Homo sapiens: one gene and its partners. The protein of the gene in region 4 interacts with the protein of the main gene of each other region in a biochemical or structural test. Each region holds a gene or a part of one and is shown on either strand. Other genes may lie near its edges. The genes, in order: NPAS2, CTCF, POU2F2, RXRA, NFKBIB, NCOA4 and BMAL1.

Region 1 (3,500 bases), on a different chromosome or scaffold from region 4:
AGTCAACTCAATAGATTATTTATTAATAGGGATGGGTTAAATAACGTCCTATTTGTACTTCTGAATAATACTCTGTAGCCTTTAAAAATAAAGAAAAAGGTATGTCATTAAAAATCCATGCCATATTAAGTTGCTAAATAATATACATAAAATGAGTTCAGTTTTTGTTTTTATTTTTTAGTTTAATTTTATTTTTTTGAGACAAAGTCTTGCTCTGTTGCCAGGCTGGAGTGCAGTGGCAGGATCTTGGCTCACTTCAACCTCCGACTCGCTGGTTCAAGTGATTCTCCTGCCTCAGCCTCCTGAGTAGCCAGGATTACAGACATGTGCCACCATGCCCAGCTAATTTTTATATTTTTAGTAGAGACAGGGTTTCACCATGTTGGCCAGGATTGTCTCGAACTCCTGACCTCGTGATCCGCCCGCCTCGGCCTCCCAAAGTGCTGGGATTACAGGCGTGAGTCAGTGCACCCGGCCTTAGTTTTTAAAAGTGTACATATGTGTGTGTATATGTAAATGCGCCAAAAATGACTAGCAGAACATGCCCCATGGTTATCAGTCATTACCTCCTGAGAAAGGTGGAGAGTTATGGGATGCTTTTGGCTACAACAGAAAAACTAGCTCAGTTTGCTTCATCTGGTAATGGTTTCATGATCTCACACATGTTCAAAAACAGACTCTTCTTTGTGTAATTCAGAAAGTCAAGGGCACCACGGAGACCTCCCCGCCCCCTGCCCTTCTTCACCTTTGCATTCTTCCGCAGGTCAGCTGAGACCTGGCCCAGCCCCTCTGGTGGCTGATGGCTGCCCAGTTTGCAGGCATTATGGCCACATATCACAGTATCTAGTGGAAGGAAAGGACTGTTTCCTTCCTTGTCTCTTTTGAGAGCAGGGAAACTTTCCCAGAAGCCTCCCAGTGGCCCACCCTCACATTTTATTGGCTAGAACAGGGTCCGCATGCTCACCCTGAGCCAGTCACTGGCAAGGGCAGCAGCCCCACCCTCACCAGGGTTGAGTGGCCAATCTGATAAACCTCCAGAGGCAGGTGTGGGTTGGCAGTCTACTGTACAAAATCCAGTTTCTGCTAGGCAAATAAAAGATAGGGCGATGATTATGGGTAGGCCACAAGGATGAAGGGAATTTTTTTTCTTTCTACTAGAAATGGTTCTGTGCTATTTGAAAATTTTTACAAGATTATATCCATGTGCTTTTTAAGATAAACTAATATAAAAATATTTCAATGCATAGAAAAAACACTGAACGGAAAATATATCTTGAAATTGTGGGGTTTTTTCCTTCTTTTCTATCTTTTCCAAAAACTATGTACTTTTATAAACAAAAAACCAATAATTTTCAGATGACCTCGAGCTCTTAATATTTTATCACCAAGGGGCACAAATATCATTCATAAAATTGTGCATGTCATTTTTGGCTCAGAAGAGGCTAGAAGAATCACGCCACTAGGTTCTGTCACCTCGTCACCTGTCTGTCTTTAGATGGGCCTGTGTTTTCTGGAAGCCTGGATGATTTTCAGTGGTCTGGGAACATTATCTGCCACGGCCTTCAGCAAAGCAACAAAGTCCACAAATTGAGTCCTAGGGTCCAACCTCTCAGCTTCAGCCCCCACCACTGCTCCCATTTCCATCCTGGTACTCCCATGCCTGACGATGCCTTCCTTTCCCTCTCTCGTCTCCACCCTCACCCAGGCCTGCCTTGGCTCCAGGGGGTTCCTCTGCTTTTCCTTCCCCCTAAACATCAAACTGCCATTGCCATTCTCTTAGAACTTGGTTTTCAAGATTTACTTTCAGGGAGCGTGGAAGGCAAATGGTAGCAGAGAAATCGCCTTTGCAAATAATAAATGGAATCCCAAAATATATTTTAAAAAATCAGAGTGATGTTGGTTGAAGTGTTTTCAGGGCCACCCAGGTGACCCCTCCTAATATCAGGGTGAAGGACACCATTGCCTTGCAATATCCATCTCTCCTAGATGGCAGGAGGAAGCAATATCTTAGAGTGCAAAGCATAAAAGGCACCCCAGGTGAATTCCAACACGCTCGGCACTAGTTTCAAGTAACTCGTACTATGGTGGAAAGACAGATTGATGGCTTTGATCCTGGAAAGTGACCCACCACAGAATAGACCAATGCCCCTCAAAGAGGAGAGGTGTTTGTCCTCTCCACTACATTTTTAAAGAGCGCTTGATTGCCACTAGCAGTCTTGATCAACAGAACCTACAGCTTAAGTACCAAGAAAAGCTTCAGATGAAAATATCCTAGGAAGGGCTATCAACAAAGCAAACCAGAAGCCAGGGACTGCAGGAGAGGGTGGAGATAAGCATGCTCCCAATAATTTTCCATTTTGCCTCTGATTAGCTTCCACAGCTGCCTGCCCTCCAGCCCTGGCCCGGTTCTCCACGGCCGGCCTTGGGTTTGCTGGTAAACCAAATTGAATCTCTAATTGGTGAACTACATGGAACATATTTTAGTAACCTCTTCGTCCTCCTTGCTTTCCAGCCTCCTCTCTCCTATCAACAGTAATAAAAGCAATCACTTTTGTTAGGCCTAACACGCGTCCTTTACTGGTAATTCTACAAACTTGGCAAGGTAAGCATCATTTGCACTGTTTTTCTGACAAGGACTCTGAGTCTCAGGTTAAAAGTTGCCATAGCTGAGCTGGGAGGCTACCCCAGGTCTGTCTGACTTCAAAATCTGCATTTTATTTCTTGCCAAGTCACAAGGCTCTCCATTCAAATATGACTACAGGTCAAGGTCAGCAATGTGGAAGCCCTACCAGCAACTCTCCTTTCCTGGGCCCCTTTCTGGCCACCACCCCAGAGAATGGCATCCCAGAACCTCATTTTCAGTTTACAATCCCTCTCTCTCTCCCTGCCACCTCACCTTGTTAGCTCCTCAAGGGCAGGTACAACCCATCTTCTCATTTTTTTATCATCTGGGCTCTCTATGTGGTATATGCTCAGTAAACATGCTGAACTGGATTCAGTGCATCCCAAAACCTTGCCAGCGTGCAGCATCTGGTAGCTGTGAGAAATGCAGCTCGGGTCCTCTCCCAGGTGTCCTGAGTTAGAATCTGTGTTTGACAAGGGCCCCAGGTGATTCTCGGGCACTATGATATCCAGCATCCTCCATCTCCTTATACAGTTTTTTTCATACCAGTGTAGAGGATCAACACTCTCCTTTCTATTCTGAACCATCAAATGGAACCACCCATTGTTTTAAGACTTGCAAAAGTTCAAGTGGTCTCTGGGGGAACTTTACCTAAGAAATGACTTTGCTTAAAATGCCAAGGACTCCTTAATCTCAGTTAAAGAATTCAAGTGAGAAGCAGTTGTGCCTTAAAGACTGCATTAAAAACTCCCCCTTTAAACATACGCTCATATTTAATACATGTTTATTTAGTGCCCTGAGATACTATTAATCATCATCACCTTGAGATTTAAAATAGAATTACTCATAGTTAAGTACCCCATTAGCATTCAGAAAT
Region 2 (4,152 bases), on a different chromosome or scaffold from region 4:
TGTGGCCCAGGCTGGAGTGCAGTGGCGGATCTCAGCTCACCGCAACCTCCGCCTCCCAGGTTCAAGTGATTCTTCTGCCTCAGCCTCCCGAGTAGCTGGGATTACAGGTATGCGCCACCACGCCCAGCTAATTTTATATTTTTAGTAGAGTCAGGGTTTCTCCATGTTGGACAGGCTGGTCTCAAACTCCCAACCTCAGGTGATACACCCACCTCAGCCTCCCAAAGTACTGGGATTACAGGTGTGAGCCACCACGCCCAGCTGCCAGTTTCTTATTTCTTGTAGAGATAAGGTCTCACTATGTTACCCAAGCTGGTCTTGAACTCCTGAACATGAGTGATCCTCCAACCTCAGCCTCCCAACGTGCTGGGATTACAAGTGTGAACCACCGTGCCCAGCCTTAAATTGATTTTTCTTAATAATTGGCTGAGCATGCTGGCTCACACCTGTAATCCCAGCACTTTGGGAGGCCGAAGCAGGCAGATTGCCTGAGGTCAGGAGTTTGAGACCAGCCTGGCCAACATGGCGAAACCCCATCTCTACAAAAAATACAAAGATTATCTGGATTGGCTGGGCACGTTGGCTCATGCCTGTAATCCCAGCACATTGGGAGGCCGAGGCAGGTGGATCACCTGAGGTCAGGAATTCAAGACCAGCCTGACCAATATGGTGAAACCCCATCTCTACTAAAAATACAAAAATCAGCCAGGTGTGGTGGCGTATGCCTGTAGTCACAGCTACTCAGGAGGCTGAGACAGGAGAATTAAACCCAGGTTGCAGAGGTTGCAGTGAGCTGAGATCGTGCCGCTGCATTCCAGCCTGGGCGACAGAGTGAGACTCTGTCTCAAAAAAAAAAAAAGAAGGAAAAAAAAATTACCTGGGCATGGTGGTGCGTGCCTGTAGTCCCGGCCACTCAGGAGGCTGAGCCACGAGAATTGCTTGAATCTGGGAGGCAGAGATTGCAGTGAGCCGAGATCGCGCCACTGCACTCCAGCCTGGGCAATAGAGTGAGACTGTCTCAAAAAAAAAAAAAGAAAGAAAGTGTATATATATATATATATATATTTATAAAACAAGACTTCAAATAATATATAATTGTTTTCTTTCATCTTCCACCACCCTTCTCCTTGCCCCACCACCTGTGCTTCCTGATTTCATGAAAAGAAAATGCTGAACCAGATCTGGACGACAATGAGGATGAGGAGGAGCCTGCCGTAGAAATTGAACCTGAGCCAGAGCCTCAGCCTGTGACCCCAGCCCCACCACCCGCCAAGAAGCGGAGAGGACGACCCCCTGGCAGAACCAACCAGCCCAAACAGAACCAGCGTAAGTTGTTCATCTCTGCTCTGGAGGCTGGCGTCTTCTCCGAGCATGTGGGGGAGCCAGATGGGTCCTTGTTCTTTGGGGATGTGGGAACTAAGCCATGAGAACAAGTTAAGGGCATGTCGAGAACAAACTCTCAGGAAATGGCTTTTTAGGAGTTTTTACTGAGGAACATCTGAGGAAGTCTTTAGAGGCCTGTTACATTTCAAGAAGAAGTCCAGAGTAGAAGGGTACTTGTGTTCTGCAAGATGGGTACTGTTAATGTGGGCGGGTTTTGAAAAACAACCAAAGTCACAGTCAGCTGGCAGAATGGATGCGGTAATGAATATAAAAGAGCCAAATCGTAAAGGTTGGAGAGGGAAAGCAGTTTCTGCACTGAGATTGCCCCTTCTAAGAAACTCAGGGTCAGGCGGTGGCTCATGCCTGTGATCCCAGCACTTTGGGGGGCCAAGGCGGGAGGATCACCTGAGGTCAGTAGTTCCATACCAGCCTGGTCAACATGGTGAAACCCCATCTCTGCTAAAAATACAAAAATTAGCCAGGCGTAGGGGTGGGCACCTGTAGTCCCATCTACTCAGGAGGCTGAGGCAGGAGAATTGCTTTAACCCGGGGGGCAGAGGTTGCAGTGAGCTGAGATCATGCCCGTGCACTCCAGCCTGGTCATAGAGCAAGACTCCGTCTCAAAAAATAAAATAAAAAATAAATTGACTGTCTCTGGACCGCTATCTAATAAGGCTGTCCTGCATTGCTGACATCCCGTTCGCTGTCAGTCTAAAAGACCCTTGTGATTCTTGGGGCTTTAATGGACCATTTGTTCTGTCTGTGCTCTTCTTTGCCAGCAACAGCTATCATTCAGGTTGAAGACCAGAATACAGGTGCAATTGAGAACATTATAGTTGAAGTAAAAAAAGAGCCAGATGCTGAGCCCGCAGAGGGAGAGGAAGAGGAGGCCCAGCCAGCTGCCACAGATGCCCCCAACGGAGACCTCACGCCCGAGATGATCCTCAGCATGATGGACCGGTGATGGCGGAGCCTTGTGCGTCGCCAGGACTTCTCTGGGCTGTGTTTAAACGGCCCGCATCTTAATTTTTCTCCCTTCTTTCTTTTTTTGGCTTTGGGAAAAGCATCATTTTACCAAACATACCGAGAACGAAAACTTCAAGGATGATGTTAGAAAAAAATGTGATTTAACTAGAACTTGCTGTCTGATGTTAGCAAATCATGGAATGTTCTGAGTCCCTGAGGGTTTACTGTGAAGTGCTGAGGACAGTGTTGACAACTAACTCGTTTTCCTAGATGGAAACGGAGACATTGACCCCTCCCTCCATGTGGTAAACCACTCCAGAATGGCCACCAGGCTTCCCAGAGTTCTATGGTCTTCTTCCCAAGAGAGTTTTTAATTGTAAATGCATACTTGGGAAGGACTTAGAGTTTTAAACTGTTTTTTGCTTTTGCTTTTCCCTGACTCCCTTTGCTTGGAGTCAGCTGCACACCAGTAGTATGGCATGCTACGATCAGGTTCTGTCCTGAAAGCTTTGCCTCTTTCTTGGCAAAGTTTCTGGTATGGTCAAGCTTGTAAATAACTTTTTTTACATTTTAATCTTTTCCATTAATTAAGAGGTTGAAAAGAAGTGCAGTGTAAGAAAACCCAGCATTTTAATTACTTGCAAATTAAGTTACCACAGACTCTGTAGTGTGTAAATGTTGACAAGGAATTGGATCACAATCATGTAGCAGAATGGCACCCAGACCACTGCCCACCAGTGACGGACATGCACGTGGCAGATCATGATTTCCAGCCCACGGAGCCAGCATTTGAACCTTGTATAATTAACTTTCAGTTATGATTTCCCATCGACATTTTCTTTGCCCTGTTTGTAGCTGATTGTTGTGTTTTATAAATCTTCTGTTAAGGCAGAAGGGTGATTATGAGTGGTTCACAGCAGCCCTTATAAGCTGGGCCAGAAAATTTCACTAGGTCAGTAATTTAAACCTTGGATCTTCAAAAAATAAAATAATGTGAAGCAAAACCAACTAAAAAGTGATTCTTGCACATGAACTGTCACATGTTTAAAAATGTGTTTTTTAGAGAGCCTCAGTCTTACTGATTTCAAACACTTTTTTCTTCTGTGTATTGCTTTTAAGAGAGCCATCAGTTAGCTATCAGACTCTAGGTTGATGCATTTTGTACTTAGCTGTACTGTGTGATATTTTTCATTATTTTAGGACGCCAACATGAGACCTGTAATAAAATATGTAATGGGGTTGAAAGCTGGGGAGGAGGATCTACTGCTGTACAGCTAATAAATCATAACGGATTAACAAGTGCTCCAAAGACTCCATCTTGCGTGATTCCTGCCTGCTTGAGGGAGGCTGGGGGGCTGCATACATGGTTCCAGGCTGTGCAGGCTGCTGCCTTTCACAGGCAACCTCTGTTCCCTGGGATGGTACTTTCTCTAGCAGATGGGACGATATGATCTTGGCGGGTGACTGGATATTGAGCGCATCCTGCTGTAACTGTTTTTTTGTTTTGTTTTGTTTTGTTTTGTTTTGTTTGAGATGGAGTCTCGCTCTGTTGCCCAGGCTGGAGTGCAGTGGCGCAATCTCAGCTCACTGCAACCTCCACCTCCCAGGTTCACGCCATTCTCCTGCCTCAACCTCCCGAGTAGCTGGGACTACAGGCGCCTGCCACCATGCCTGGCCAATTTTTTGTATTTTTAGTAGAGACTGGGTTTCACTGTGTTAGCCAGGATGGTCTCGATCTCCTGACCTTGTAATCCGCCTGCCTAGGCCTCCCAAAGTGCTGGGATTACAGGCGTGAGCCACCAC
Region 3 (3,500 bases), on a different chromosome or scaffold from region 4:
CACCTTTGCATCAGCCCCAGAAACCTCACTAAATGTGACTCTCTCCTTCCCCAGCTCAAAACCACTCCTTACCTCCTCACTGCCCATGGTTCAAGTTCCAGCTCTTCACTGTAAAACTTGGGGTACATGCCCCCACTCCTTCCCCAACCTCATTCATATAAACTGCAGCACCAACCACACTAAATTGCACTGGAGTTTCTCAAATTGGGCTGGGCACACCCTGGCTTCTAGGCCTTAGTACACACTGGTCCAGGAAGGCTCTTTGCCTTCTTGTGGCTGGCTAACTCTCCCTTGTCCTTTAGAACTCAGTTCAGACAGTGCCTCCTTCACACCGATGGGGGCAGGGGCTCCTCTCTGGAGCATCACAGCTCTTCCCAGAAATGGAAATAAAAGGATGGGATAAAGGATGTCCCAGCTGTGTCTGATATCAAGTGGGCCTGTGTATAGCTGTGGACCTGAGAGTACACCCATGGGTGTGACAATTTCCCCGAACGGCAAATAAGTGCCTCTCCCTGCCTCTGTGTGGTTGTGAGCCTGTGTGTTCTAACCTGGACCACGTCCCTGGACATATATCCCTTCCTGTGTGGCTATGGCACTGTGATAACTCTGTGTCTGGCTATGTCGGTGTGTATCTAGGGGTGCTTGTATCCCCCATGTAAGACCACAGTTCCCTGGAAACCGTCCCTGTGTAACTGTGCCCATCTACGTGATGGCCTGTCTCCAAGAGTGACTCTTCTTGTCTCTGTTCTAGGCTCTGTGGACAACCAGGTAGGGTGGGCTTCACACAGGTGCCTGCGGAGCTCTGTGGTCTCCCCACCCCCCAGGCGGGCTCTTGGTACCATATGGGGGCTGTAGCTGGCCGGCTTCCCTGGGCTGGGCAGCATGGGGGCCGCACTGCAGGGGTTGATGCGTTTCTCCTTCTGGCGCCGGTTGCAGAACCAGACGCGGATCACTTCCTTCTCCATGTGCAGCTGCTCGGCGATCAGCAGGATCTCCTCTGAGGTAGGCTTCTGGTTCTGCAGGCAGAGGGCTCGTTAGCCCGAGGCCCACCGCCCGCCACCCCTCAGGTGAGGGCCACCCAGGAGAGGGGGGCCTCACCGCTAGAAAACTCTTCTCTAAGGCGAAGCGGACGTTTGTCTCGATGCTGGTCCTCTTCTTGCGTCTCCGGCCGGGCAGGCCGTCGAAACCCAGGCTGGGGCTGCTCAGCTGGTTGGGGCTGGGCAGGCTTGAGTCCACAGACATAGTCTCTGTGCGCCGGGGGAGACGTGAGCATGAGAAGGGGCCTCCCGCGGCCAGCGGCCACTGCCCGCCCCCTACGCGGGAACCCCAGCCTGGTCCCACCTGCATCGTTGAGCCACTTCTCCAGGAGGGGCTTGAGTTTGCACATGTTCTTGAAGCTCAGGTTGAGGGCCTCGAAGCGGGAAATGGTCGTCTGGCTGAAGTCGTTGCCGTAGAGCTTGCCCATGGCCAGGCCCACATCACCCTGGGCCAGTGGGGCGGGGAAGGGCCCGAAGTCAGGGTGGGGCCTTCCGGCACTGGGCCCGCTCCGCCCGCCCACTGGCCACGCCCCTCGCGGCATCTATCAACTGGCCACGCCCCCACGCCCACCGCCCAGCCTGCAAGGTGCCTCCAGACCTGCGTGAAGCCCAGCTTGATGCGGCGTTGCTTGAAGGTGCGGGCGAATTGCTCCAGCTCCTCCAGATCACTGGGCTCCTCGGGGTGGGATGGTGGCTCCAAGCATTTGGGGGGCTGCGGGTGCGAGAGGTGCGGGTCGGGCAGCGTAGGGCGGGTCACGGCCTGGTGGGGTGGGCAGGTGGGTGGGATGCAGGGCGGAGGACCAGGATGGGGCTCAGCGATGGGTGCACAGTCCCCCTCCCGCCCTCTTCGCCCCTGCGTTCCATCCGCCGCCTGCAGACTCCCCCCGCCTTCCTCCACAAGCACCGTCAATCCCTTTAAAGGTCCCTCCACATGCACTGTTAATCCCTTTAAAGGTCCGACTCTGCTGCCCTACATGGGTTTCCTCATTGCCTGGGACTCTCTGCACTGTCCCTTCACGCCTGCGAACTCCCAGAAGGAGCAGCCAGCTTTTTGTGCCAGGGCTCTTTCCCTGGAGCTGGAGGCAGTGGTTCATCCTCATCTCAACCTGGGAATCAGGGACTGGCCCTGCCACCAAATCACTGCTTAGCCCAGGCCTCACTTTCCCCCTCTGCAGGATGGGAACAATCACTGCTGTTCTGTCTACCCAGTGGGGCTGTTGAGAGAATCGGGTTAAAAATGAGTAGGTCGTGCAGACCCATGGACTGTACAATGCCAAGAGTGAACCCTAATGTCAGCTATGAACTTTGGGTAATAGTGATGTGTCAATGTAGGTTCATCACCTGTTACGCTTGTACCACTCTGGTTGGGGATGTAGATGATGCAGGAAGCTGTGCATGTGTAGGGGCAGAGATAGATGGGATATCTCTATATCTTCCACTCAGTTTTGCTGTGAATCTAAAACAGCTCTTAAGAAATTAAGTCCTAAGCAATGAGTAGATTGCAAATAAAGTAAAAGTTAAGAAAAAAAAAAAAGGACTGGGAGGGCAATTAGAGAGATTTACAAAAAAGCAACAGCTCTATCTGGGATTCTTCATTGCCCTAACAATAAAGGATATGAAGCAGGTGGTGGGTACAGGGATGTTTGTCGCTCAGGTCCTTTATCCATTATTCTCCAAAATGCTGGGGCAGATGTTTAGGAATTTTTCAGTTTTTTTTTTTTTTTTTTTTTTGAGATGGAGTTTCACCCTTGTTGCCTAGGCTGGAATGCAATGGTGCGATCTTGGCTCACCATAACCTCTGCCTCCTGGGTTCAAGTGATACTCCTGCCTCAGCCTCCCGAGTAGCTGGGATTATAGGCATACGCCACCACACCCGGCTAATTTTGTATTTTTAGTAGAGATGGGGTTTCTTCATGTTGGTCAGGCTGGTCTCGAACTCCCGACCTCAGGTGATCCACCCGCTTTGGCCTCCCAAAGTGCTGGGATTACAGGGGTGACCACTGCGCCCTGCCTTTTTTTTTTTTTTTGGTATAAATTTAAGGACAGCCGAGTGCAATGGCTCACACCTGTAATCCCAATACTTTAGGAAGCCAAAGTGGGAGGATCGCTTGAGCACAGGAATTTGAGACTAGCCTGGGCAACATGGCGAAACCCTATCTCTACAAAAATTTTAAAAATTAACCAAGCATGTGGGGCGTGACTGTAGTACCAGCAACTCAGGAGGGCTGGGGACTGCTTCACTTGAGCCCAGGAGGCTGAGGCTGCAGTAAGCTGTGATCACACCACTGCACTCCAGCCTGGGTGACAGAGTAAGACCCTGTCTCAAACAAAAAACAAAATGTTAAAAGATACAAGTGCAATTTTGTTACACAAATGTATTGTGTAGTGATGAAGCGTAGGCTTTTAGTGTATCCATCACCCAAACAGTGTACATTGTACCCATTAAGTAATTTCTCATCATCC
Region 4 (3,500 bases):
AAGCACCTACTATGCGCCAGGTGCAAGGTAATCCTTCCAGTGGGGATACGACGTGGGCCTGTGGGGTGTGCCCGCCACAGCCCACTGGCCTGGAGGACCTCCTGCTGCCTGCTCAGGACCTGCTGGCATGGGCTGGGCCTGGGGAGGGTGCCACCTTCTCATTCACATAAAATGGCCTTGCAGGGGGTGGGGGCTCTGGAGACAAGAGCCTGGGTCTGGGGTGTGTGTGGGACGGGGCGGGACCCACCTTCCCGGCTGCTCTGGGTACTTGTGCTTGCAGTAGGCCTCCAAGGACGCATAGACCTTCTCCCTCAGCGCCTCCACCTCGGCCGGGTTCGAGAGCCCCTTGGAGTCTGAAAGGAAGAAGCCACAGGTCAGAACCCTCAGCTGGGGCGTGTCTCGGGCACCTGCCCCCAGGACCCAGGCTTGTGTGGGGTCTCCCAGGCTGCCCCACCATGGGCAGAGCAGGTGGTGGAGGAATGCCGCTGGACATGCCTCCGCCCGCTCCCCCAGAGCCTGGTGGCAGGGGGACGACTGTGGAACCCACGGCCAGGCCAGGCTGCTCTGGGTCCAGGCTCAGCTCTGCCACTTGCCAGCCACGTGACCTTGGGTCAACTATTTGACCTCCAGAGACTCGGTTTCCCCATCGATAAAGTGTCAGGGATCTGCTGCCTTCCTTCCAGCCGCCTTGGGAACTGGGAGAGACAATGGATGCTGCTGCTGCCCTTGGGTCCCAGCCCCATAACATGGATGGGAGATAGCGCTGCTGCCCCCAGGAGTACCCAGACCCTGCGGAAACCCATCCTCGGTGTGCTTGCGGAGTCCTGAGCTCAGGACCCGGGCTCAAGAGCCTAGAGTGGACAGAGAGGCTAAGATTGCAGCCACCAAAACCTCCAAGGCCCAGGGACCCCCTGTGAATGCCACCTTGGCCCCCAAGGCCCAGGGACCCCCTGTGAATGCCACCTTGGCCTGTGTCCTGGGCTCCTTGGCAACGTACCTGGCTCCCCCAGCTGCCTCCGCTCCAGCCAGTCTCCTCGCCCTCCCTGCATGCCTGTGCCCTGGTCTCTTCGCTTTCCCTGCAAGCCTGTGCCTGGACCCTGCTTGTGCCAGACAATCTCACCCTCCCTGCAAGCCGGTGCCCAGGTCCTGCTGGTGCCCCAGCTCTAGCAACCAGACCACACAGGACCTGAATGGGGATTCCTCGGGCCGGGCCGGGCCGTGGCATGACTCAGCCTCCGAGCTGGCAGGATTACGGCCCGGATGCACAGCCTGGGTGATAAAATGACCCTGGAAACAAGCTCTCCCCACAAGAAGATGCCCATCTCCATCCCGGCCCGGTCCCTCAGAGCCAGGTCTGACAAAGGGCAAGGTCAGAAGGTCAGGGCCAGGAGCCGAGAGGGCTCCACTCCCTCCACCATAGCCCAAGTGAGCTCCCCACAGCAGCCCCAAACCTCTCCCTCCACACCCCAGCCACCTGCCCCTATCACGCAATGAGCTGAGTTTCCAAACACAGAAACCCATAGCTCCCTCCCGGCTGGAACCCCTCAGGACTTGGCTCCCTGTGGCCCCAAGAAAAAACCCAAACTTAGCAAGACTTTCAAGGCCCTGCCTGGGCTGCCTCCACCAGCCCACCCCACCTCCGTGCCTCTCACTCCCCTGGCCCCTAACTTGCAGCTCCCGGAGGAAGTGGCCCGCACCCTCGACCAACCGTGCTCCTGCCCTCACGTGCCGGGGGTGCCTGCTGGTGGGCGTGACCCTCTAAACCCCAAGCTCTAGGCAGGCAAGCCCTATCCAGCAGCTTGAAGGGGCCCTCCCATGCCAGCAGGGCACCGAGCAAACAGGCACGTGTCAGCACTTGTTGGGCGAAGGAGTAGCACCTAGGAGGCTTTTCAAGCCGAGAACCCAGAGGCTGGAGAAGGGCCGCACTGTCGGCCAGGAGGCCTGTGCCCAGCCCCAGCCCCACAGCCCCAAGCCCTGCTCTCCTCAACCACAGGGGCCCAGCCCCAGAAACACCCTGGACCCGAGGCTTGGGGATGAGGTTGGTCCCCTCTGGAACACCCGGCAGGCCTGACCCATCCCCAGCCTGCAGGGCTTGGGACTCCTGAACTTCAGCACCGGAAGTTCACAACCACAGCTGGCCACTTTCGGAGTCTGGATTCCGACGCACAGTGATGAACACTATGAACCGCGGAGCCCAGACGGCACCACCAAGCCCCTCATGACAACTGCCTTGCTGGGTCCCCCTGTGCCCAGGGACCATGCCCCCTTGGCTGGCCCTCAAGGTGAGCAGAAGGCAGCATGGCCACACTTTCACTGGGAGGGGGGCACACTGAGCTCAAGGAGGGTGGGAGTTGGCCCCACATGTAGCCAGAGGCAAGAAGTACAGCCAGGAGGAGGCCCAGGCACCTCTGCCCCACCAGAGAACGGGGCCAGAAGCCTCAAGGCAGGAAGGCCATACCAGGGTTAAAGAGGACGATGGCGCGCAGGCAGCCCAGCTCCGTCTTGTCCATCTGCATGTCCCGCATCTTGGACACAAGCTCCGTCAGCACCCTGCAGAGGAGGAGGGCAGACACCCCATCCCAGTTAGGTCGCAGCCCTCACCAGGGCCACACCCCAGATACCCAAGGCCTCTGGAGAGCCCGGCGTGGCCCGAGGGCCGCTGAGATGGGCCAAGCCAAGGCAAGGACTCCCAGACACCCCGAGAGGGAGTGGGCTGGAACCCAGGCCCAGGTGCCGCCCCTGCCAGGCCTGCCTGGCCCTGCCCGGAGGGTGGGCTCCTCTCCTCTCCCTCTAGGGTCTGCCTGCGGGGCTTTATTCTGGGAACCGAGGTGCTAAGGAGGGGCCTCGTGACAGCTAAACTGAGGTGAGCCGCAGCTGCACAGAGGGCACAGAGTCCACCCCTCCCGAACCCAGTGAGACACACCACTGTCCCTCCTCAGCTGTGGACCCAGCACCACCTGAGGCAAAGCCCCTTCCCATGCCACAGCCCCAGCCGCTCCCTTCAGTCCAGGAAGATACCTTTCCCCAGGGCCTGGTGTCCCTGGGTGGGGGCTGCCAGAGGGAGGCATGTCTACTTCTTGTCACCAGAGAAAAAAAATCCACCAGCCTCAACACGGGGAAAGCCCGCCAGCTCCCTCCATGGAGACGCTGGGGGCGTTCTTGGATTCAGACTCAGCTGCCCCAGCCCTGCAGCTGGATTCTGAATCACACCAGCCTCTGCAGTGTACTGGGCCCCCTAGCCTCAGCAGCCTGCCCACCAACCCCAAAGCTCAACTGCTGTGTCCAGGAAGTAAGGGTGGGCCACAGCGGGGGAAAGGAGGTGACCAGGTGGGGATGGTTGCCTAAGGAGCCTGGGCTCTCCCCTGTGGGCCAAGGGCGGCCCTGAGGGTCTGCAGAATGGGGAGTGCCCTGGTTGATTCCTGGAAGAAGATCTGAAGGAGGCTGGAGAACAGGGTGGGACAGAACAGGAGCTGGGAGGGACCCCCGATGTCTGCTCTGAG
Region 5 (3,211 bases), on a different chromosome or scaffold from region 4:
ACAGTGACCGAGGTGGCCTGCCTTTGAAGGTGGGTGCTGACTACCCCGTTTCTGACCCCACCAGGAAAAGGAGGTGGAGCAGCTGGAGCACTTGAGAGACGAACTGAAGAAGGTGACAGAGACGCTGGGGGAGCAGCTCAGGAGGGAGGGCTGACCCCTACCTCAGTCCCTCCTTCCTCCTGACACACCCTGTGGCTTAGGACTGTTGACCCCGAAGCCTCCACCTCACCTAGCACCCCACGCCACCCCTACCCAAACAGGGGAGGAGGCGGACGTGCCTTGGAACCACACCCAAGGAGGTGAGTCTGAGCTGGGCCGGGGGCTGGGCTCAGCCCTGACACAGGAAGCACCCCCACACCTATGCACTCCCACTCCAACCCTTCTGAGTGAATAAAGCACAAAGAAACGCACCCTGCCTCCGTGAGCAGCACTTGATGTGACAGGGATGGGCCCCAGAAGGACCCGGAGGACTGGGAAGACAAGATCAGTCTGGTCTCTGGTTGTCAGAACTAGGGTTTTGTTTATTAAACTGGAAATTATATTAACAATGAAACAAATCACACGGGGCGGGGGTCGTCAGGAAGAGGTTTTGAGGCTGGGGTGGGAGGCAGCCGGGTTTGGCTGCGGCTGCTGTGAACCACAATGTCGTCGTATTCATCCTGGGGGCAAAGGGGACCAGGCAGAGGGGCTCAGGCGGCTGTCACTTTGCCCACCACCCATGTCCTCATAGAGCACCCTAAGAATTAGGTCTCGCCTCAAAGCCCAAGTTCCCCTGCTCCTGGCTCAACCTCCCAGTTTCCTAGCTCTCAGAACTCCATTTTCTTTTCTTTCTTTTTTTTTTTTTTTTTTTTAAGATGGAGTCTCGCTCTGTTGCCCAGGCTGGAATGCAGTGGCGTGATCTAGGTTCACTGCAACCTCCACCTCCCAGGTTCAAGCAATTCTCCTACCTCAGCCTCCCAAGTAGCTGGGATTATAGGCATGCGCCACCACGCCCAGCTAATTTTTGTATTTTTAGTAGAGACAGGGTCTTGCCATGTTGGCCAGGCTGGTCTCGAACTCCTGACCTCGTGATCTGCCTGCCTCGGCCTCCCAAAGTGCTGGGATTACAGGCGTGAGCCACCGCACCTGGCCAGAACTCCATTTTCAAGGTCATTTCTACAGACCAATTTCTAGCCAGCCGCCACTCCAGAGTTTCGGCAACTGAGCTGGCCCTCCTCCACCCCTTCCCTCTGCCTTTACCCAAATTCCTCCGCACCCATCATCCAGCACCGCGCCTTGCCCAAGGACGGATCTGTATTGCTGGGTTCTCTGACTATATCTCTCCCCACCGCTGGCTCGGGTCCTGCCCCAGCACTGCCGGTGTTCAAATCACTGCCACCCAAGGTTTTCTTTTCGCAGTGTGAGTTCTCCAATTCTTGCTGCCTAAAATCACCCCCAGCGCTACCACCCACCCCCGCTGTGTTCACCAATCACTGCGACCAACGCCTTTTCTCCACCCCTGCCTGAGTTCTACCTTTGCCACTGCCTTAGTTTTTCAGCCACTTCTGCCCAAGCTCTTCCCACCACCCCTGTCCAGGTCTCTCCTGACTAGTGCCCCGTGTCACTGGCGCTGCTGCCTGAGTTCTCTAACAGCAGCCCAAGGTCGGTGCCTAATTATCTTCTTGGGCTTCTTGCCTGCCGGTCTATCCTGACCCCCCAGCTGGGCTGCCCTGTCTCTCCTCCTGACTCACGCCCTCGTCTCCGCTGTCGCTGTCGCTACTGCTGCTGCAGGGGCCGGATTTCTCGTCCTCGCCCTCGGGCTCAGGGGCTCCGTGTGCACGGAGGAGGCGGGCGAGGATGGGGTTGGGCCGGAGCATGGCACTGCCGAGTGGGGTGCGGCCACCGTACATGCGGGCAGCAGGGTTCGCGCCTGCCCTCAGGAGAAGCTCCAGCACATCGGCTGCCTGGGCCTCCACTGCCAAATGAAGGGGGCTCCGGCCGCACGTGGGCTCCTGTGGGGGTGCAACAGAAAGGTCAGAGGGCCCGAAGAGGGGACAAGCCCCCTCCCGCCGACGGCATCTTCCCCGAGGTTGGGGCTCACCGGTTTGTCAAGGTCAGCTCCAGCATCTCGGAGCAGCCGGACCATCTCCACATCTTTGTGGATAACGGCCACGTGGAGTGGGGTGTGGCCTGGGGACAGAGTGATTGGCGTCAGATGATGAGGTGAGGGCCCCCCCCACCCCACCGTGCTTTGATCCTGGGGGAGGGTCATGTGGCGTGAGGGTGATTAGGTTTGGGGGCTGGTTCCTGAATTCTTGGGTATGGCAAAGAGGTACCTGGGTACCAAATGCCTATCTCAGATGGCCTGAGCTTGCTGGCAAGTGCTAGTGCCTGAGTTGTTTGAAGCCTGGGGCCCGCGGGTAAACAGCCTGGGGTCTGTGGACAGGGAGCCTGGATTTTGGGGCCAGGAGGAGACCCAAGTCTCTGCTCTTATCACTCAAAGGACCTGAGCTGGCACGCTATTTCACACCTGTAATCCCAGCACTTTGGGAGGCCAAAGCAAGAGGATCACTTGAGCTCAGGAGTTCAAGAAGCTGCCTGGGCAACATGGCAAGACGTCTCTACTAAAAATAAAAAATAAAGGCCAGGCACAGTGGCTCACGCCTGTAATCCCAGCACTTTGGGAGGCTGAGGCGGGTGGATCACGAGGTCAGGAGATCGAGACCATCCTGGCTAACATGGTGAAACCCCATCTCTACTAAAAATACAAAAAATTAGCTGGGCATGGTGGCGGGCGCCTGTAGTCCCAGCTACTCGGGAGGCTGAGGCAGGAGAATGGTGTGAACCCAGGAGGCGGAGCTTGCAGTGAGCTGAGATGGCGCCACTGCACTCCAGCCTGGGCAACAGAGTGAGACTCCATGTCAAAAAAAAAAAAAAAAAAAAACCTTAAATTAAGGTTCCTGCCCAGGCACGGTGGCTCACACCTGTAATCCCAGCACTTTGGGAGGCCATGGCGGGCAGATCACCTAAGGCCAGGCCAGGAGTTCAAGACCAGCCTGGTCAACATGGTAAAACCCCGTCTCTACTAAAAATACAAAAATAAGCTGGGCATGGTAGCATGTGCCTGTAATCCCTGTAATCCCAGCTACTCGGGAGGCTGAGGCAGGAGAATCACCTGAACCTGGGAGGTGGAGGTTGCAGTGAGCCAAGATCACGCCACTGAACTCCAACC
Region 6 (3,500 bases), on a different chromosome or scaffold from region 4:
TTATTTTGAAAGTAATCAAAGATCCTTCTGTACCTTTTAGTCTTCATCTCTAAATCTACAAAGAGGAACACATGCCTCATATGACTATATGTGTGTTATAAATAGAAAATGATATTCTAATGTTCTTTTAACTTTTCAGGACACTGTATGCTCTTTGATTCAGGACAATTAGTGTATTTTTCCAGAAATAGCTATTCACATGTAAAGTGTCACTAAAGTAGATTATAGAGTTTTATGGCAGGAACAGTGGTAGAGGGAAGGGAGGAGACAATATTTATTAAGAGTATCTTATGTGCTAGGTTTGGTGTTGGAAAGTAATCTAAGTAGTTAGTAATGGGAGTTGGCTGGAATGATCATTTGAGGGATGATTCAAAGGTGGTTTTTGGTTGTAATTATGGTGCTATTTATATATATTTTTTTCTTTTAAAGGAGCAGTGAGGAGAATGAATACCTTCCAAGACCAGAGTGGCAGCTCCAGTAATAGAGAACCCCTTTTGAGGTGTAGTGATGCACGGAGGGACTTGGAGCTTGCTATTGGTGGAGTTCTCCGGGCTGAACAGCAAATTAAAGATAACTTGCGAGAGGTGTGACATGTGCTTTTCTCTTCTGTTGTCTGGACTCTTGACACAGGGCTGATTTGAGCATGGCCAAGGACTTGGTCTCTCCGTGCCAGCAAAAAATTTCACCCCATGCCTTGCGTGGTCTACTTGGTCCCCGTCAGTTGCCTGATATACTGGTGCCTTTCATCCCAAGGGGAAATAAGGCAGATGCTAGAAGAGTCTGGAAAACCCTGTGCCATTCTAGAAAATTCTATTCAGCTTACTTAGATTACTAACTACTTAGATTTTTGATTACTCCTCTGTGTGATTCCTCAGGCACTGTGACCAGTAAAAATATGAAATGAGTGAGCAGTATCCTCTCAGCTGCATCCTCTTGATTGCATGAAGGATGCACTTGAGCATCCTCCCCATCATCTTTTAGCTGGTTAATGGCATTGTTCTGTAAATGACTATCTGTTAGGGCAAGCCAGAGTGAAATCTGTTGTTGGTTCCAGTAGTATTTTGTTGTTGTGTGTGTTAGACCAAGTATTACATGACTTTGAAACACAACTTTATTAAACAGAAAAAAATGTGTTTTAAAATACAGTTTCTTATGTATATTGTCACGGATAATTTATGGCCTGTTTTGACTTTTTCCCTTGGGATTTTTATATTTAGCCCTGTTTGAATCACTGTTTATGCTTCCAGAAATATTAGTTTATAATTTTACTTAAATTGTCTACCCTAATGGTCTTTTAGCTGTTGACATGTGGTGGCACATCTCTTTACTAAATTGGCCTCCTGTAAATGGACCGCTCATTCTGTGGGGTGAGAAAAGAGATAAGGGGCTAGCTATTAAGTTAATACTCTGTCTTTATTCTGCTGATAAACTTGTAAAACCGTAGGTTTTTAAATTATGTGGAAAACTGAGGGGGTCAGTATTTCCTGGTACATTCTTGTATTTTCTCTTGATTAGGACACCCAAATTAAACCTAATCCTCTTAGAAGGCTGGGTATTGAAGAAGGATTTTAGAGTTTAGGTATGCCTTTATGGCTAGGATTCTTAAATTGGGGTCCATAGGGCTTTAGTGGGTCCTTGGGTGGGCTTTGGAACACTAAACCCTGAAATTATAGGTAAAATCTTGAAAATATACATTTTTTCTGGGGAGATACTTCATAGATGTCATTGGATAATTAAAAGGATTTGTGGTCCCCCCAACCCCACCCCCCCAAAAAAAGTTTTAGAAACTCACTATTCTTTGGGAAACATCATTCTTTGGGATTAACACTAGGAAGCTAACATGTATGTGTTTCCTAGGTCAAAGCTCAGATTCACAGTTGCATAAGCCGTCACCTGGAATGTCTTAGAAGCCGTGAGGTATGGCTGTATGAACAGGTGGACCTTATTTATCAGCTTAAAGAGGAGACACTTCAACAGCAGGCTCAGCAGCTCTACTCGGTAAGGTGACTGCATGGCTAGAATTGGTTTGAGCATGGCTTCTGGTTGCCAGAGAGTATCTTCCTTGTAATGCAGTGTTAATATAGATCAGATAGAAGTTTAATCTCAAGTGCTGTTTGGTAACTTGAGTATATCTGGTGCTTTTGGTGTCATTGTGGCTAGTTGGTTTCATTTTTCTTTTAGTTATTGGGCCAGTTCAATTGTCTTACTCATCAACTGGAGTGTACCCAAAACAAAGATCTAGCCAATCAAGTCTCTGTGTGCCTGGAGAGGTAATGACCCTTTTTGCGTATTTTAACTTTTGACTCTTGAACTTTGGTATACTAAAAGAAAGTCGATTTTGTAACTCATTGCTTGTGTTATATTTAACTTCTGTGTTGCTAGGATAAGATCATTCTGCTTCATGTATTTAATATTATACTTGCTGATACATGAATAAGCCATCTATCTTTGGTTGAGTTTCTTAGAGAAGTGTAATCATTTAAAATTACTCACAATTTGGCTTTTGTTTTAGATGAAGTTGATGAAACAGATATTCCTTAAAAATAGCCAATTTTGTTTTTTTTTCCCCAGACTGGGCAGTTTGACCCTTAAGCCTGAAGATTCAACTGTCCTGCTCTTTGAAGCTGACACAATTACTCTGCGCCAGACCATCACCACATTTGGGTCTCTCAAAACCATTGTGAGTAATCTCATATGCTTCACTGGGCACTTCTCATATCTGTGGCCTCACAGCTGGTCTTAAAAAAAATTGCTATGAATAGTGACTTTCTTGAGAATTTGATTAGCTTCAAAAATTTCATGTTCTCAGCTGGGCGTGGTGGCTCACGCCTGTAATCCTAGCACTTTGGGAGGCCGAGGAGGGCGGATCACTTGAGGTCAGAAGTTCAAGACCAGCCTGGCCAACATGGTGAAAACCCATCTCTATTAAAAATACAAAAAAATTAGCTGGGCGCCTATAATCCCAGCTACTTGGAAGGCTGAGGCAGGAGGATCGCTTCAAGCTGGGAGGCGGAGGTTGCAGTGACCTGAGATCGTGCCACTGCATTCCAACCTGGGCGACAAACAGTGAGACTCCGCCTAAAAAAAAAAAAATTCATATTCTGATTAAGTTGCCTAGGTTGGTAGTTCTTGGAATGTAGTACAGACTCAGTGATACTCTTTGGAATGCCTCATGTATCTCTCTAAATACTTTTGAAATATTTTTTGTAAAATTTATGGCTTGAATAGTTTTTAATAAAGAACGAAACGTTTGGGTCTTGTTAAAAGTGGTAATACAACCAATTCTGGTAAAGATTTTTTATATAATAGTTATGTGGTAGAGTATTCTCAAATTTGATAACTACTTTGTAAGTCATGGAATTTAGTGTGAACAGTATTTCTAATGAAATGGTAATGCTTTAACATTTTTGAAATTTGGAATTATAATTTCACTTTTTTGGCAGCATAGCATAAATAACATGATTAAATTATCTCTATTTTGTAGCAAATTCCTGAGCACT
Region 7 (3,500 bases), on a different chromosome or scaffold from region 4:
ACAAAGTAAGACCTGGGTTCGAAGCTTGGCCTTGCCATGTGCTAGTTATGTGAACTTGTACAACTTTCAAGCCCTAGTTTTCTTTATAATGGAGCTAATAATGGTTAGGGTAGCCAGCATCTTTGCACGAGGTCCTACTGTGAGATAATATATGTGAAAGTGCTTGGCCCAAAATACCACTGACAGATGAAGTCTGAGCTTGGTGTCCCGTGACCCCCGCCCCCCTGCCCACAACACACACACTGCTTGCCAGCTGTCTTCTTAGCTGTTCTTCTGTTATACCTCCAGGTCCTTCCTGCATATTGGATCCACCATCTTCTTAGGGTGGTCTTCCAGTCTCTGCTTCTTAAGTTAACTTTTAGGCACTTGACTTGACTCCTGGTATTACCAAGGATTCTACTTCTTGGTTTTGAAAGGTTATCAGTCCAGTATAGGCTTAAATATTACTCAAAGAACTTTCATATACATTGTCTCATCTCACCTTCACAACATTATAGTGACAAGATCCAGGCTCCTCAGCGTTCGTTTTATAAGTATGGCCCCCAGGCTACAATCCTGGGCTCATGGCTTCCAATTCTTTTCACATCAACAACTACCAGAAATCAAAAGCTGTGCTCTGCATCATAAAGCCCCAGCTATTTTTGAGGCACTTATGAAAATTCTCCCTTTTCTTTGAGAAGAATGGATTATAAAATGGATCTGTGAGAAGAAATTTGGATGTGTTCTCACGAGATGAGTCCTGGGCAGCAGGACTTATAAGAAAAGCAGCTTAAACAAGACAGTTAAAACTGACAGCAGTATTAAATGGTGCACCATACCCAGCCCTTTCCAGTCACTTTCAAATTTGGAAGGTCCAAAAATGAACCATTTAGCCTGCAGTTGTTTGTCAGGATCAAGCTAAAAAGGAAGCCTAAGTGAGCCTCCATAGGTCGCAAGAGAGTACAGACATCCAGAAGCACTAAGGAAAATTCAGATAAAGCAGCAGTTCTACAAATGTCATCTGCAGTCTTTTTCCAGAAAGAGAGGGGGCACAAGATCCTTTTAAGGGTCTGCAAGGTTAAAGCTATTTTCTTAATAACATTAAAACGTTAATTTTTTCCCTGTATTGATAATGTGCACTATTCATACTAAAAGCACGGTTGGGTAAAATTGCTGGCATTTTACAAAAATCAGACAAGTGGCACCAAACTATACTAGTAGTCATTGTATTCTTCACCACCACACACTCACAGTAAAAAAATAGTTTAAAGCCAGTTTCATTTAAGATTGTCCATCATGGCTAGGTGCAGTGGCTCACCCCTGTAATCTCAGCACTCTGGGAAGCTGAGGCAGGCAAACTGCTTGAGTCCAGCAGTTCCAGGCAAGTCTGGGCAACATAGAGAAATCCCATCTCTACTAAAAAATACAAAAAAAATTATCCAGGTGTGGTGGTGTACCTGTAATCCCAGCTACTCCGGGGACTGAGGTGGGAGAATCACCTGAGCCCAGGAGGTTGAGGCTGCAGTGAGCTGAGATTGTGCCACTGTACTCCAGCCTGGGCAACCAGAGTGAGACCCTATCAAGGAGGGAAGGAGGAAAGGAAGGAAGGGAGTGAGGGAGGGAGGGAAAATGTCCATCATTACTTTTATAAAATTCTCAAGCACACATCTTTTTAATGCTCTGTGACAAAATGAGAAGTACACAGAACTTGTGCTGCATACCAAAGTATGATGTTTGTCTCAAAAACTACTTGTGTGATTAAGTTGTGAGTTGAACTAGCTACTATTTTCATTGGACACCATTTTTATTGTATATGGTCATTCGGTTTTGGGTATTTAGAATACTTTTTTTTTGGAAATGAATGAAGTGAACCTGTCACTTTAAGGAAAATGACTGACATTTGTTGCCAATGATAAAATCTGAGCTTTCAAGCAAAAATTGGAATTTTTAGAAAACTTGTCTCTGCTACTTTGACCTTGAGATCTTCCTAAAACTTAAAAAATGTTGTTGATGAGATAGGGAGTATTAATAATAGTGATATTTTGATGCTCTATAATGAAATGTGTCAATATATAGAAGATCTGCATAACTCAGTGAACCAATATTTTGTAACTAAACAATGCAAGGTATTTCAAAATCATGTAAGGGTAAAAGATCCATCCTAAGTGCCAAGATATAAAGAGTACAAAACATTCATTGATATGGTTTCAGATTCCACATTGCAACTCACCTTTAAGAAACTTCTACGTGTCAAGTTTTGAAGTGGTATCAAAAAAGAATACAATTATTTGAAAAGTCTATTAAAATATGCCTCCCTTTTCCAACTACTTATCTGTGGGAGGTTGGATTTCCTTCATATACTTGAATCACAAGACGTATCTAAATAGACTGAATGGAAAAACATATATGAGAATCCAGTTGAAAATTATTAAGCCAGACATTAGATTTGCAAAAATGTAAGATAATACTCTGCCTGGTAATTTTTTGTTACTGTTTTAGAAAATAGTTATTTTTCATTAAAATACTATTCATTATTTATGTTAACATGTAGCGGGTTTATTACATTTAAGAAATCTATTAGTTTTAATTTCAAATACAGTAAATATTGATAAATACAGCCTACATAAGCAAAAGTTCTTTGGAGTCCTCAATGATTTTTTTAAGAGTGTAAAAGGGTCCCTAGACCAAAACGTTGCTGTGGAAATAAAGTAAGTTATAATGCCACCTGCTGGCAAAGCCTGAAATCATTGCTGCTCCTGAAAGCAGCAGCTACCAAACTGTTTCCTCACGTATATCCAGATAGGTCTCAAAGAATGCTCTTCTTTGAGACTCAGCCAGGGGAAGGCAGCTGGGGTGAGTGGGGGAGATTTTGAGACAGAGTTCTCTTACTGAGTAGTAGTAATAATCCTCCCCAGTAGCCTGTCTTAACTTAAACCACAGGTTACTGAAGTTGGCACCTGTAGTATAAGAGATTTACTTCTGTTTTCTTCATTTGACTCCTTGAGCTGTGTCTCTTCACAGCTTGTTAACTCCACTTTTTCTTCTTCAGAAATATCTGTCACTATAAGATGTTTTATTCCCTTATAGGGGAAACGTCTAGCTGGGCTCATTGAAGTTTAGGCATTGGTCCTAAAGAAATATGTGGGCATCATGATTCCAGGCAGTTGAATGCTCTTGGGATTTTATTCAGCCTTTAAGTTGCCTCTGTGGGCTCACTAAAATGGAGAGAAAAGAATAGTTCGGGGGAGAGGTTTTTTCTTACTCTGACCATGTCTGTCTAACAGTTCCTTGTTTGAAATCATCCAATAGAAAACTGAAGCCATTTGAAGCTTCTCCCCACCCCACCCCATGCTTCATTTTCCTTTTGGCATTGCTCATAATACTGATTCAAACTTCACACTTCCCTCCTTTTGTTTGTAGATTTTAAATGGAGGGACTCCAGACATTCCTTCCAGTGGCCTACTATCAGGCCAGGCTCAGGAGAACCCAGGTTATCCATATTCTGATAGTTCTTCTATTCT

The links.
Region 1: the proteins of RXRA (region 4) and NPAS2 form a complex in vitro, tested with the Homo sapiens proteins (one study listed by BioGRID).
Region 2: the proteins of RXRA (region 4) and CTCF form a complex in vitro, tested with the Homo sapiens proteins (one study listed by BioGRID).
Region 3: the proteins of RXRA (region 4) and POU2F2 form a complex in vitro, tested with the Homo sapiens proteins (one study listed by BioGRID).
Region 5: the proteins of RXRA (region 4) and NFKBIB form a complex in vitro, tested with the Homo sapiens proteins (one study listed by BioGRID).
Region 6: the proteins of RXRA (region 4) and NCOA4 form a complex in vitro, tested with the Homo sapiens proteins (one study listed by BioGRID).
Region 7: the proteins of RXRA (region 4) and BMAL1 form a complex in vitro, tested with the Homo sapiens proteins (one study listed by BioGRID).

The regions. Positions count from the first base shown.
Region 1 is NC_000002.12:100,823,139-100,826,638, reverse strand, and holds part of NPAS2 (neuronal PAS domain-containing protein 2), read right to left. Parts: intron 1-3,500. UniProt on the Homo sapiens protein: Transcriptional activator which forms a core component of the circadian clock.
Region 2 is NC_000016.10:67,635,526-67,639,677, forward strand, and holds the end of CTCF (transcriptional repressor CTCF), read left to right. Parts: intron 1-1,164; coding exon 1,165-1,326; intron 1,327-2,162; coding exon 2,163-2,347; 3' UTR 2,348-3,652; downstream 3,653-4,152.
Region 3 is NC_000019.10:42,094,447-42,097,946, forward strand, and holds part of POU2F2 (POU domain, class 2, transcription factor 2), read right to left. Parts: intron 1,798-3,500; coding exon 1,636-1,797; intron 1,484-1,635; coding exon 1,342-1,483; intron 1,248-1,341; coding exon 1,099-1,247; intron 1,017-1,098; coding exon 840-1,016; intron 1-839. UniProt on the Homo sapiens protein: Transcription factor that specifically binds to the octamer motif (5'-ATTTGCAT-3'). Regulates IL6 expression in B cells with POU2AF1. Regulates transcription in a number of tissues in addition to activating immunoglobulin gene expression.
Region 4 is NC_000009.12:134,430,955-134,434,454, reverse strand, and holds part of RXRA (retinoic acid receptor RXR-alpha), read right to left. Parts: intron 2,551-3,500; coding exon 2,459-2,550; intron 354-2,458; coding exon 248-353; intron 1-247. UniProt on the Homo sapiens protein: Receptor for retinoic acid that acts as a transcription factor.
Region 5 is NC_000019.10:38,906,179-38,909,389, reverse strand, and holds the end of NFKBIB (NF-kappa-B inhibitor beta), read right to left. Parts: intron 2,170-3,211; coding exon 2,081-2,169; intron 1,992-2,080; coding exon 1,731-1,991; coding exon of another isoform or gene 1,683-1,730; exon of another isoform or gene 660-1,682; coding exon 558-659; 3' UTR 501-557; downstream 1-500. UniProt on the Homo sapiens protein: Inhibits NF-kappa-B by complexing with and trapping it in the cytoplasm.
Region 6 is NC_000010.11:46,013,624-46,017,123, reverse strand, and holds part of NCOA4 (nuclear receptor coactivator 4), read left to right. Parts: intron 1-429; coding exon of another isoform or gene 430-443; coding exon 444-584; intron 585-1,857; coding exon 1,858-1,998; intron 1,999-2,181; coding exon 2,182-2,270; intron 2,271-2,571; coding exon 2,572-2,680; intron 2,681-3,484; coding exon 3,485-3,500. UniProt on the Homo sapiens protein: Cargo receptor for the autophagic turnover of the iron-binding ferritin complex, playing a central role in iron homeostasis. Acts as an adapter for delivery of ferritin to lysosomes and autophagic degradation of ferritin, a process named ferritinophagy.
Region 7 is NC_000011.10:13,382,290-13,385,789, forward strand, and holds part of BMAL1 (basic helix-loop-helix ARNT-like protein 1), read left to right. Parts: intron 1-2,190; exon of another isoform or gene 2,191-2,435; intron 2,436-3,399; coding exon 3,400-3,500. UniProt on the Homo sapiens protein: Transcriptional activator which forms a core component of the circadian clock.